Linked DNA regions of Homo sapiens: region 1 is linked to region 2. The links come from fine-mapping of genetic effects on gene expression. A gene starts in region 2. The other region holds a variant in brackets. All regions are shown on one strand. Distances are between the middles of the regions.

Region 1 (5,385 bases), 36 kb before region 2:
AGGTTTACTAGACTTACAGTTCCATGTGGCTAGGGAAACCTCACAATCATGGCGGAAGGCAAGGAGGAACAAGTCACGGGCAGCAGGTAAAGAGAGAGATGTTGTGCAGGGAAACTGCCCTTTATAGAACCATCTGATCTCATGAGACTTATTCACTGTCACAAGAACAGCACAGCAGAGACCTGCCCCCATGATTCCGTTACCTCCCACCGGGTCCGTCCCACAACACGTGGAAATTCAAGATGAGATTTGGATGGGGACACAGCCAAACCATATCAAGTGTAGAGAAAGTGCTTTTGAAGGACTTACTAAATCAGATCATACTGTAGTGTCAAACATGGACACTCTGAAGTTTATTAGCTGCATTTCATAGTTCGGAAATTTTTTCATAAATCCTTCTATCTACTTATGTATGTATTTATTTATTTTTAAATAATAATAATTATTGGGACAGGGTCTTGCTCTGTCACCCAGGCTGCAGTGCAGTGGCATGATCACAGCTCCCTGCAGCCTCAATCTCCCAGGTTCAAGCAATCCTCCTGCCTCAGCCTCCTGAGTAGCTGGGACTAAAGGTATGTACTTCCATGCCCAGCTAATTTTTAAATTTTTGGTAGAGATGGCGTCTCACTATGTTGCCACGGCTGGCCTAAAAGCCCTGGGCTCAAGCTATCCTCCCACCTCGACCTCCCAAAGTGCTGGGATTATACACGGAGCCACCATGCCCAGCCTCCATTCATATTTATAATTAAGCATTAATCACAAAGGAAATAGCAGTTGCTACCAGATGAGCAAATTAATTTGGTCAAAAGTAGATATGCAAGACTGTAGGATACCTCTTTTATACTTACCTAAGACACAATGTTTATTTCCAGCCCAAAGTACCTTAATTCATTTAAACTAATGAGCATTCAAGAATATCTTTCTAATACTGATTAAGCAAAGTGAATTTCCACAATAAATATTCAAGTCCTAAATTGCTTAATTGTACAATTTAAAAGCTAGTTAAGCATGCACTTGTGAACTTTACATTTCTTAAAATTCATATGTACATTGAATAATTCTGACTTTTCATAGCAACGTTATAAACTCTTCATTTAAAAAATTATATATATGTGTGTATATATATATTTGGCTATATGTTTCAGGAAATTATATCTTCGACCAAATCTTGACTAATTGATTTTCATTTAGATATTTTTAATAAGAGTATTTTGGATTATTTTAAATGAAAATAGCAGTAGTAATCCTCTAAGTGTCTGTGTCTTATGCAGAGGATGTCATTTAATTTAACAAGCTTATGGGGTAGCCATTGCTGTTACAATGATTTTACAGATGAGAAACTGGGGCATAGAAAGGTTAACTTTCTCAAGGATATACAATTAAAGAATGTCAGAGCCAAGATTTGTTAATCATTTTATATATTCCATGATTTTAAGTAGAATATCATATGTAATAACCAGTCTAATTCAGTGAATGAATATTCTAATGCCAAATTTCCATCTACATTTGGATTTATTTAAACAATTCTCTAGGAAATGAATTTCCCAAGGATTTGTGGTTCACCTACAAGCCAGGCATTATTTTTGATGCTGTAGTTCCTGTCCTTTGGGAGCTCATAGTCTAATGGGAATGGCTGACAAATAATTATCTTATAATGTTATCTTAAATTATCTTATAAGCTATATAATAAAAGAATGCTGAAAGTGTCACAGGAGTACAGAGGAGAAAAGGGCTTGCTGCATACCAAGAGAAGGGAATTCTTTCAGAGGTGATGTCTGAACTGTGTCTGGAGGTAGATTAGGAGTATATCAGAGCAGGCAGAGGCCATTCCATCTCAGGGTGGCTCTAGGCACGTGCAAGAGTGTGGCCTGTGGAGTACAGTGAGCAGGATATACACAGCGGAATGCAGCTCCAGCTCTGTGAAGCCTCAGGTAATACTGCAGAGGGCCCCGTAGCTTTCCTACTCCCACCTCCCCCTTGTCTTAGCACAGCTCCAGCTGCTGATGGCAGGAGTAACTGATTCTGTAGTCCTCATGTGAAAGTCTGACAGGAAAGGACAAATAAGAACTGAAGATTTCTGAGAAGTCTGTTCACATCCAGTCTAATCCCA[C/T]AGCTGAACCTCAGATCCACTGATGGTTTTGGTCCTGCCATCAGGTATGAGGAAACTGACCAATGATGCCAGCTAACTTATTTAAGACTCTGAAGATAAATAGCATGCTTTTTTTTTATTATTATACTTTAAGTTTTAGGGTACATGTGCACAACGTGCATGTTTGTTACATATGTATACGTGTGCCATGTTGGTGTGCTGCACCCATTAACTCATCATTTACATTAGGTATATCTCCTAATGCTATCCCTCCTCCCTCCCCCCACCCCACAACAGGCCCCGGTGTGTGATGTTCCCCGTCCTGTGTCCATGTGTTCTGATTGTTCAATTCCCACCTATGAGTGAGAACTTGCGGTGTTTGGTTTTTTGTCCTTGTGATAGTTTGCTGAGAATGATGGTTTCCAGCTTCATCCATGTCCCTACAAAGGACATGAACTCATCCTTTTTATGGCTGCATAGTATTCCATGGTGTATATGTGCCACATTTTCTTAATCTAGTCTATCATTGTTGGACACTTGGGTTGGTTCCAAGTCTTTGCTATTGTGAATAGTGCCACAATAAACATACGTGTGCATGTGTCTTTATAGCAGCACGATTTATAATCCTTTGGGTATATACCCAGTAATGGGATGGCAGGGTCAAATGGTATTTCTAGTTCTAGATCCCTGAGGAATCCCCACACTGACTTCCACAATGGTTGAACTAGTTTACAGTCCCACCAACAGTGTAAAAGTGTTCCTATTTCTCCACATCCTCTCCAGCACCTGTTGTTTCCTGAGTTTTTAATGATTGCCATTCTAACTGGTGTGAGATGGTATCTCATTGTAGTTTTGATTTGCATTTCTCTGATGGCCAGTGATGATGAGCATTTTTTCATGTGTCTTTTGGCTGCATAAATGTCTTCTTTTGAGAAGTGTCTGTTCATATCCTTTGCTCACTTTTTGATGGGGTTTTTTGTTTTTTTCTTGTAAATTTGTTTTGAGTTCATTGTAGATTCTGGATATTAGCCCTTTGTCAGATGAGTAGATTGCAAAAATTTTCTCCCATTCTGTAGGTTGCCTGTTCATTCTGATGGTAGTTTCTTTTGCTGTGCAGAAGCTCTTTAGTTTAATTAGATCCCATTTGTCAATTTTGGCTTTTGTTGCCATTGCTTTTGGTGTTTTAGACATAAAGTCCTTGCCCATGCCTATGTCCTGAATGGTATTGCCTAGGTTTTCTTCTAGGGTTTTATGGTTTTAGGTCTAACATTTAAGTCTTTAATCCATCTTGAATTAATTTTAGTATAAGGTGTAAGGAAGGGATCCAGTTTCAGCTTTCTACATATGGCTAGCCAGTTTTGCCAGCACCATTTATTAAATAGGGAATCCTTTCCCCATTTCTTGTTTTTGTCAGGTTTGTCAAAGATCAGATAGTTGTAGATAAGTGGCATTATTTCTGAGGGCTCTGTTCTGTTCCATTGATCTATATCTCTGTTTTGGTACCAGTACCATGCTGTTTTGGTTACTGTAGCCTTGTAGTATAGTTTCAAGTCAGGTAGCGTGATGCCTCCAGCTTCGTTCTTTTGGCTTAGGATTGACTTGGCAATGTGGGCTCTTTTTTGGTTCCATATGAACTTTAAATTGGTTTTTTCCAATTCTGTGAAGAAAATCATTGGTAGCTTGATGGGGATGGCATTGAATCTATAAATTACCTTGGGCAATGTGGCCATTTTCACAATATTGATTCTTCCTATCCCTGAGCATGGAATGTTCTTCCATTTGTTTGTATCCTCTTTTATGTCATTGAGCAGTGATTGGTAGATCTTCTTGAAGAGGTCCTTCACATCCCTTGTAAGTTGGATTCCTAGGTATTTTATTCTCTTTGAAGCAATTGTGAATGGGAGTTCACTCATGATTTGGCTCTCTGTTTGTCTTTTATTGGTGTATAAGAATGCTTGTGATTTTTGCACATTGATTTTGTATCCTGAGACTTTGCTGAAGTTGCTTGTCAGCTTAAGGAGATTTTGGGCCGAGATGATGGGTTTTTCTAGATATACAATCATGTCATCTGCAAACAGGGACAATTTGACTTCCTCTTTTCCTAACTGAATGCCCTTTATTTCTTTCTCCTGCCTGATTGCCCTGGCCAGAACTTCCAACACTATGTTGAATAGAAGTGATGAGAGAGGGCATCCCTGTCTTGTGCCAGTTTTCAAAGGGAATGCTTCCAGTTTTTGCCCATTCGGTATGATATTGGCTGTGGGTTTGTCATAGATAGCTCTTATTATTTTGAGATATGTCCCATCAATACCTAATTTATTGAGAGTTTTTAGCATGAAGGGTTGTTGAGTTTTGTCAAAGGTCTTTTCTGCATTTATTGAGATAATCATGTGGTTTTTGTCGTTGGTTCTGTTTATATGCTGGATTACATTTATTGATTTGCTTGTGTTGAACCAGCCTTGCATCCCAGGGATGAAGCCCACTTGATCATGGTGGATAAGCTTTTTGATGTGCTGCTGGATTCGGTTTGCCAGTATTTTATTGTGGATTTTTGCATCGATGTTCATCAGGGATATTGGTCTAAAATTCTCTTTTTTTGTTGTGTCTCTGCCAGGCTTTGGTATCAGGATGATGCTGGCCTTATAAAATGAGTTAGGGAGGATTCCCTCTTTTTCTATTGATTGGAATAGTTTCAGAAGGAATGGTACCAGCTTCTCTTTGTACCTCTGGTAGAATTTGGCTGTGAATCTGTCTGGTCCTGGACTTTTTTTTGGTTGGTAAGCTATTAATTATTGCCTCAATTTCAAAGCCTGTTGTTGGTCTATTCAGAGATTCAACTTCTTCCTGGTTTAGTCTTGGGAGGGTGTATGTGTCGAGGAATTTATCCATTTCTTCTAGATTTTCTAGTTTATTTGTGTAGAGGTGTTTATAGTATTCTGTGATGGTAGTTTGTATTTCTGTGGGGTCGGTGGTGATATCCCCTTTATCATTTTTTATTGCATCTATTTGATTCTTCTCTCTTCTTTATTAGTCTTGCTAGCGGTCTATCAATTTTGTTGATCTTTTCAAAAAACCAGCTCCTGGATTCATTGATTTTTTGAAGGGTTTTTTGTGTCTCTATTTCCTTCAGTTCTACTCTGATCTTAGTTATTTCTTGCCTTCTCCTAGCTTTTGAATGTGTTTGCTCTTGCTTCTCTAGTTCTTTTAATTGTGATGTTAGGGTGTAAATTTTAGATCTTTCCTGTTTTCTCTTGTGGGCTTTTAGTGCTATAAATTTCCCTCTATACACATGCTTT
Region 2 (5,318 bases):
ATACCAAATTAATATTTTGTATCATCCTGATATATGAAGACATTTACAAATATAGAAGAGAAATAATTTTAATCAGTTTTATTGTGCTGTAATTTACATCTGCCAAAGATTATCTATTTTAACTATACAGCTTTATGAGTTTTGACAAATTTATACAGTCATGCAACCACAATCACAATCATGATACAGAACATTTTCATCACCCTTAAATATTCCCTCATGCCTCCTTGCGATCAATCTCCTCCCCAACCCCTGGCCTCTGATTTGTTGTCTATCAATCAGTGTAGTTTTGGCTTTTTTAGATTTTCATATGGAATCATGTGATATAGAATCACTTAGGAAGTAGTCTTTTGTGTCTTATTGTTGTCCTTGAAAAATATTTTTAAGCAAGCAAAATGACTTGCCACAGGTTGGCAGAAAAATATTTGCAAAATACGTATTTGAAAATTCTTGTATCTAGAATATATGAGCTCTTACAATCAATAAAAGACAAACAACAAAATTTTAAAAAATAGGCAAAATATCTAAACAGACAGTTCACCGAAGAAGATAAACAAATGGCAAATATACATAAAAAGATGCCCAACATCTTTGGTCATTAGGGAAATATAAATTAAAATTGTAATGAGATACCTATGTTGACACAAAGACCTGTTCACAAATGTTCATAACAGCTTTATTTATAATAGTCCCAAACTGGAAATAACTCAAGTGTTTATCAACTGATGAGTAGAGAAGCAAACTGTGGGATAGCCATATGATGAAATACTACTCAATAATAAAAGGGAACCAATTAATGATATACACTACAGCACAGATGAATTACAAAAGCATTATGTTGAGTGAAAGAAGCAGATACAAGAGACATATAGAAGAAATTGGGAAGGTTTAAAAAAAATTTTTAAAAGCAGTGACTATTTGAGTATCACAAGTAAAGTTTTTTTTTGTTTTGTTTTGTTTTTGAGACGGCATCTCGCTCTGTCCCCCAGGCTGGAGTGCAGTGGCATGATCTCAGCTCACTGCAAGCTCCGCCTCCCGGGTTCACGCCATTCTCCTGCCTCAGCCTCCCGAGTAGCTGGGACTACAGGCGCCCGCCACTAAGCCCGGCTAATTTTTTGTATTTGTAGTAGAGACGGGGTTTCACCACGTTAGCCAGGATGTTCTCGATCTCCTGACCTCGTGATCCGCCCGCCTCGGCCTCCCAAAGTGCTGGGATTACAGGCGTGAGCCACCGCGCCCGGCATAAGTAAAGAATTATAAGCTATGGTACATAATGATCCTCTCCTCAAAGAGCCTACATAAGTAAGACACAAAATAAGTAAAACACAAACAGGCTTGTCCTGAAAGAGCCTGCATGGGTATTAACCAATGCAATGGTAATTACCTAGAGATTTTTCTTAGAAGTGAAATTTTTACAGCTCTCCCTCAAATTCAGTTTTGTCTGTGTGCTCATGGAAAGTCTGAGTGCATCAATAGTTGATTTTACAATCGAAATGTAGAATATTTTCATCACTCTCAGTGGTTTCTGTAGTCCCAGCACAGAGTGAGTGGGGACATCAGTGCTCCATGTCCTCAAACCATATATCCAGCTGGAAGGGTGTATAGCGCAGTGTGGAAAGTGGGAATGGATTCCACAGCCGTCCATAGGTCCCACAGGGATGATAAAAAGTAAAAAGTACAAATTCTTTGTACATTCTGGATATTAACCCATTTTCATATATATATGATTTGCAAATATTTTCTTCCATTCTGGGAGTTGCTTTTTCACTCTGTTGATGTATTTTTTGATGCACAAACGTTTTTAATTTTGATGTATTCCAATTTATATCTTTTGGTTGTCTGTGTGTTTTTCTTTTTTTGCCCATGCTTTTGGTATCATACTCAAGAAATCATTGCCAAATCCAAAATCCAAGGTCATGAATTTTTGTCCTATTCTTCTGAGTTTTATGTTATAGTTTCAGATTTTTTGAACCATTGTGAGTTAATTTTATAGTTTTAGCTCTTAGATTTAGATCTTTGAACTTTTTTGAGTTAATTTTTGCATATGGTATGAGGTAAGCCTCCAACTTCTTTTGCATGTGGATATCTAGTTTTCCTAGCGCTGGGTAAAGGTGGAACTCCTCTGCAAGGGAGGTGAGGAAGGAGGGGAACAGAGAAAGGTGTAGATAATGACCAGTTTACTTTTGTTGAAACCTAGTTACTTCTTAAGCAAAGATTGTTTAAGTGGATGTTTTCAAAGCTGCTTGTTACTGTTTCAAAGGTCAAATAGATAATGATTAAGTTGCGCATCACTTAAGGTAGATTTTGACCTCTCACAAGTTGAAGAGTACTGAAGATCTAAGATCATTTACATCCCTCTGGAAGAAAAAATAACATAGCCTTCTAGGGCAAAGAAGAAAAAACTCAACAGTTACAGGATATTCCATGGTTCAAAGTACACCTGCCTGGTTTGCTGTTCTCCAAAATCCCATGCTCAGTTGGTTGGAGTGGCCTCACTCTTACCTGCCAACCTGGGAGGTTGATGATGAACATGTCTTTACCTTTTCTTTGGAGTTTGCTTACCTTATTAATATTTGCTGAAGTAAATGGCGAAGCTGGAGAACTTGAGCTGCAGAGACAAAAAAGAAGCATCAATCTCCAACAGTAAGTAAACACATGGGTCATTCCTGCTCAGGGACTAGGCTAATTCCTCACCAGTTTTCCCAAATAGCCAGATAAACAAAGGTGCAATTTTTCTTGAGGAAAATTATGTTGAGAAGCAAACAGGGAAAAACATTTAGACTGAGGTATGAAATTACTTTCCTATGCACAAATTATTATCTGTCATTTTGCAAATAATCTGTTTGCAATTGCCAGGAGGTATCTCTGAGAAATGTGCAGAGAAAAAAGTGGCAGATGAGCAGGGGCAGTTGGGTTGAGATGATCAAAAAGTGAAGATGTATTTGGCCTGTAGTTATTCAGTAAGAAACTTTGTTATTTTGGTTTAAAAATTGTACTTGCTAATTACTGATGCATTCTCTCGTTTGAATTATATAGGCCTCGAATGGCTACAGAGAGAGGAAATTTGGTGTTTCTTACGGGGTCTGCTCAAAACATTGAGTTTAGAACCGGATCCCTGGGAAAAATTAAATTAAATGATGAAGATCTCAGTGAGTGTTTACATCAGGTAATACACTGGAAATATATTGAAGTCATTTTGTATATCCATATACGGTGACTTAATTGAACAAGTCTAGATTAATCTGTACCTTGAATCTTTTTTAATTATTATTTTTTATTAATACATAATTTGATACATTCCTATAATGTGTAAAGTTCAAATCAGGGTAATTGGGATATCCATCACCTTAAATATTTACCTTTTCTTCATGCTAAGAACATATGAATTGTTCTCTTCTAGTTATTTTGAAATGTACAATAGATTAATGTTAACTATAGTCACCCTACTGGTCTATCAAACACTAGGTCTTATTTCTTCTATCTAACTATATATTGTATTCATTAATCAACCTGTCTTCAGCCTCCCTCCCCCTTCCTAGTGTACCTTGAATCTTTAGCATAGAGAACATAATTGGGCATCAGACATGTTCTTGTAAAGGACGATGGCCTGGGGTTAATAGTGGGTAGAGGGAGTATGCTAAAAGATAGAAGCTCATTGTGCCAGACAATGCACCCTAGTCCAGAGAAGGCACGGAGGGTGGAACTGAAACTCCTCCACAGGGGATGCGAGGAAGTAGGGGACCAAGGATATGTGGACATGTGACCAGTTTGCTTTTGCCACAGAACAGAATTGGCCAGTTATTCTCCTGCCTTACTGGGTGTTTTCATTTCCCAATAATCACTGCATATTTCAGTCATAATGTTAGAAGTCAGCATTATTCAGAGCTTACTGTGGGCCATCCACTGTGCTTAGCACCGTATGGATGTTATCTCATTTGACCTTCACAGCTGTCCTATGAGGTGGCCTTTATTGTCACCCTAGTTTTACAAGAGGTAAAGAAACCCTGAAGCAGTTAGGTAACTTGCCCAGGACAGCAATAAATAGCTGAGCCAGGACTTAAAACCTAAACAGTCTGCTTCCAAGCCAGGTTTCTTAATAAGCACCCTAAACTGGTATTATAGGAAAACATACAAATGGAAAATACCTTGATCTATTGTTACTGAAAAGGATAAGTGGAATTATGCTGTGGCTATTTTAGCCCAGTGTTTATTACGCATGGTGTTGTTTTGGTTTTTATAATAATAGGCAAGATCTTAGTGCTTAAAGTAGAATACTACTCAAGTTTTTAATTATGTTACTGTAAAGATAAATATGATATTTTCACTAGTGCTCTTCATTTCTTCTTCTTTTTCTAAAATTAGATCCAGAAAAACAAAGAAGATATTATAGAGTTAAAAGGGAGTGCAATTGGTCTGCCTCAAAATATATCTAGTCAAATCTATCAGCTTAATTCCAAGGTAAGTCTGACATCTACGTCATAAGAACCGATGAGTTCTCCCTAGTTCTATTGTATAAGTAACCGTTTTGTAGGGGATATACCAACTTTGTGTGCTCTTTAGAGATTTAGCATGTAACTACTCACTGTTTGGTTAAATGACACAGCTGTAATGGAGGCTGTAGAAGTGATGGACAGAAGGCAGGAAATGCTGTGCAAGCACTTGTTGCAGAAGTAGGCCTTGGGCTGGGAGCAGTGGCTCACTGCAAGTGAATGGATGATTAATATAAAAAACTGCCTGTAATCCCAGCAGTTTGGGAGGCCACAGAGGGAGGGTCGCTTGAGCCTAGGAGTTTGAGACCAGCCTGGGCCACATAGTGAGACTCCGTCTCTACCAAAAAAAAAAAAAAAAAAAAAAATAGCTGGGCATGGTGGCATGAGCCTGTACTCACAGCTACTTGGGAGGCTGAAGTGGGAGGATGGCTTGAGCCAGGGAGGTTGAGACTGCAGTGAGCTATGATCATGCCACTGTGCTCCAGCCCAGGCAACAGAGTGGGACCTTGCCAGAAAAAAAAAAAAAAAAAAAGAAAGAGAGAGAGAGAGACAGAAAGAGAGAGAGAGACAGAGAGAGAGAGAGAAAGAAAGACAGAGTGAAAGAAAGAGAGAGAGAGAAAGAAAGAAAGGAAGAAAGAAAGAAAAGAAGCCTTGCTGAAGTTCTGAGAGCAATCTTCTTATTGGGGAAGTGGATGCATCACTGACATTTATGAACATTTCCATAGTCACTGCCTACAGAGAAGCAATCGGTCAACTTATCAGTGGGTTGTACTTTAAAAAAAAACTTAAAAAAACCCCAGAAATCTATGTGATAGGAGGGAATAGGAA

What was found. PIP is the estimated chance that this variant, and not a neighbour inherited with it, causes the effect.
Region 1: its variant is fine-mapped to the expression of CUBN in unexposed skin (GTEx, PIP 0.92).

The regions. Positions count from the first base shown.
Region 1 is chr10:17,163,365-17,168,749 of GRCh38, reverse strand. All of the region lies in intron 3 of TRDMT1 (tRNA aspartic acid methyltransferase 1), which reads left to right. Among named protein-coding and RNA genes, the nearest start is that of TRDMT1, 36 kb to the left of the region's middle. The variant C/T (reference allele first, on the strand shown) is at 2,111.
Region 2 is chr10:17,126,969-17,132,286 of GRCh38, reverse strand. It overlaps CUBN (cubilin), which reads left to right and starts at 2,476. Exons shown (of 67, transcript NM_001081.4): 1 at 2,476-2,643; 2 at 3,037-3,166; 3 at 4,363-4,458. The coding sequence starts at 2,522.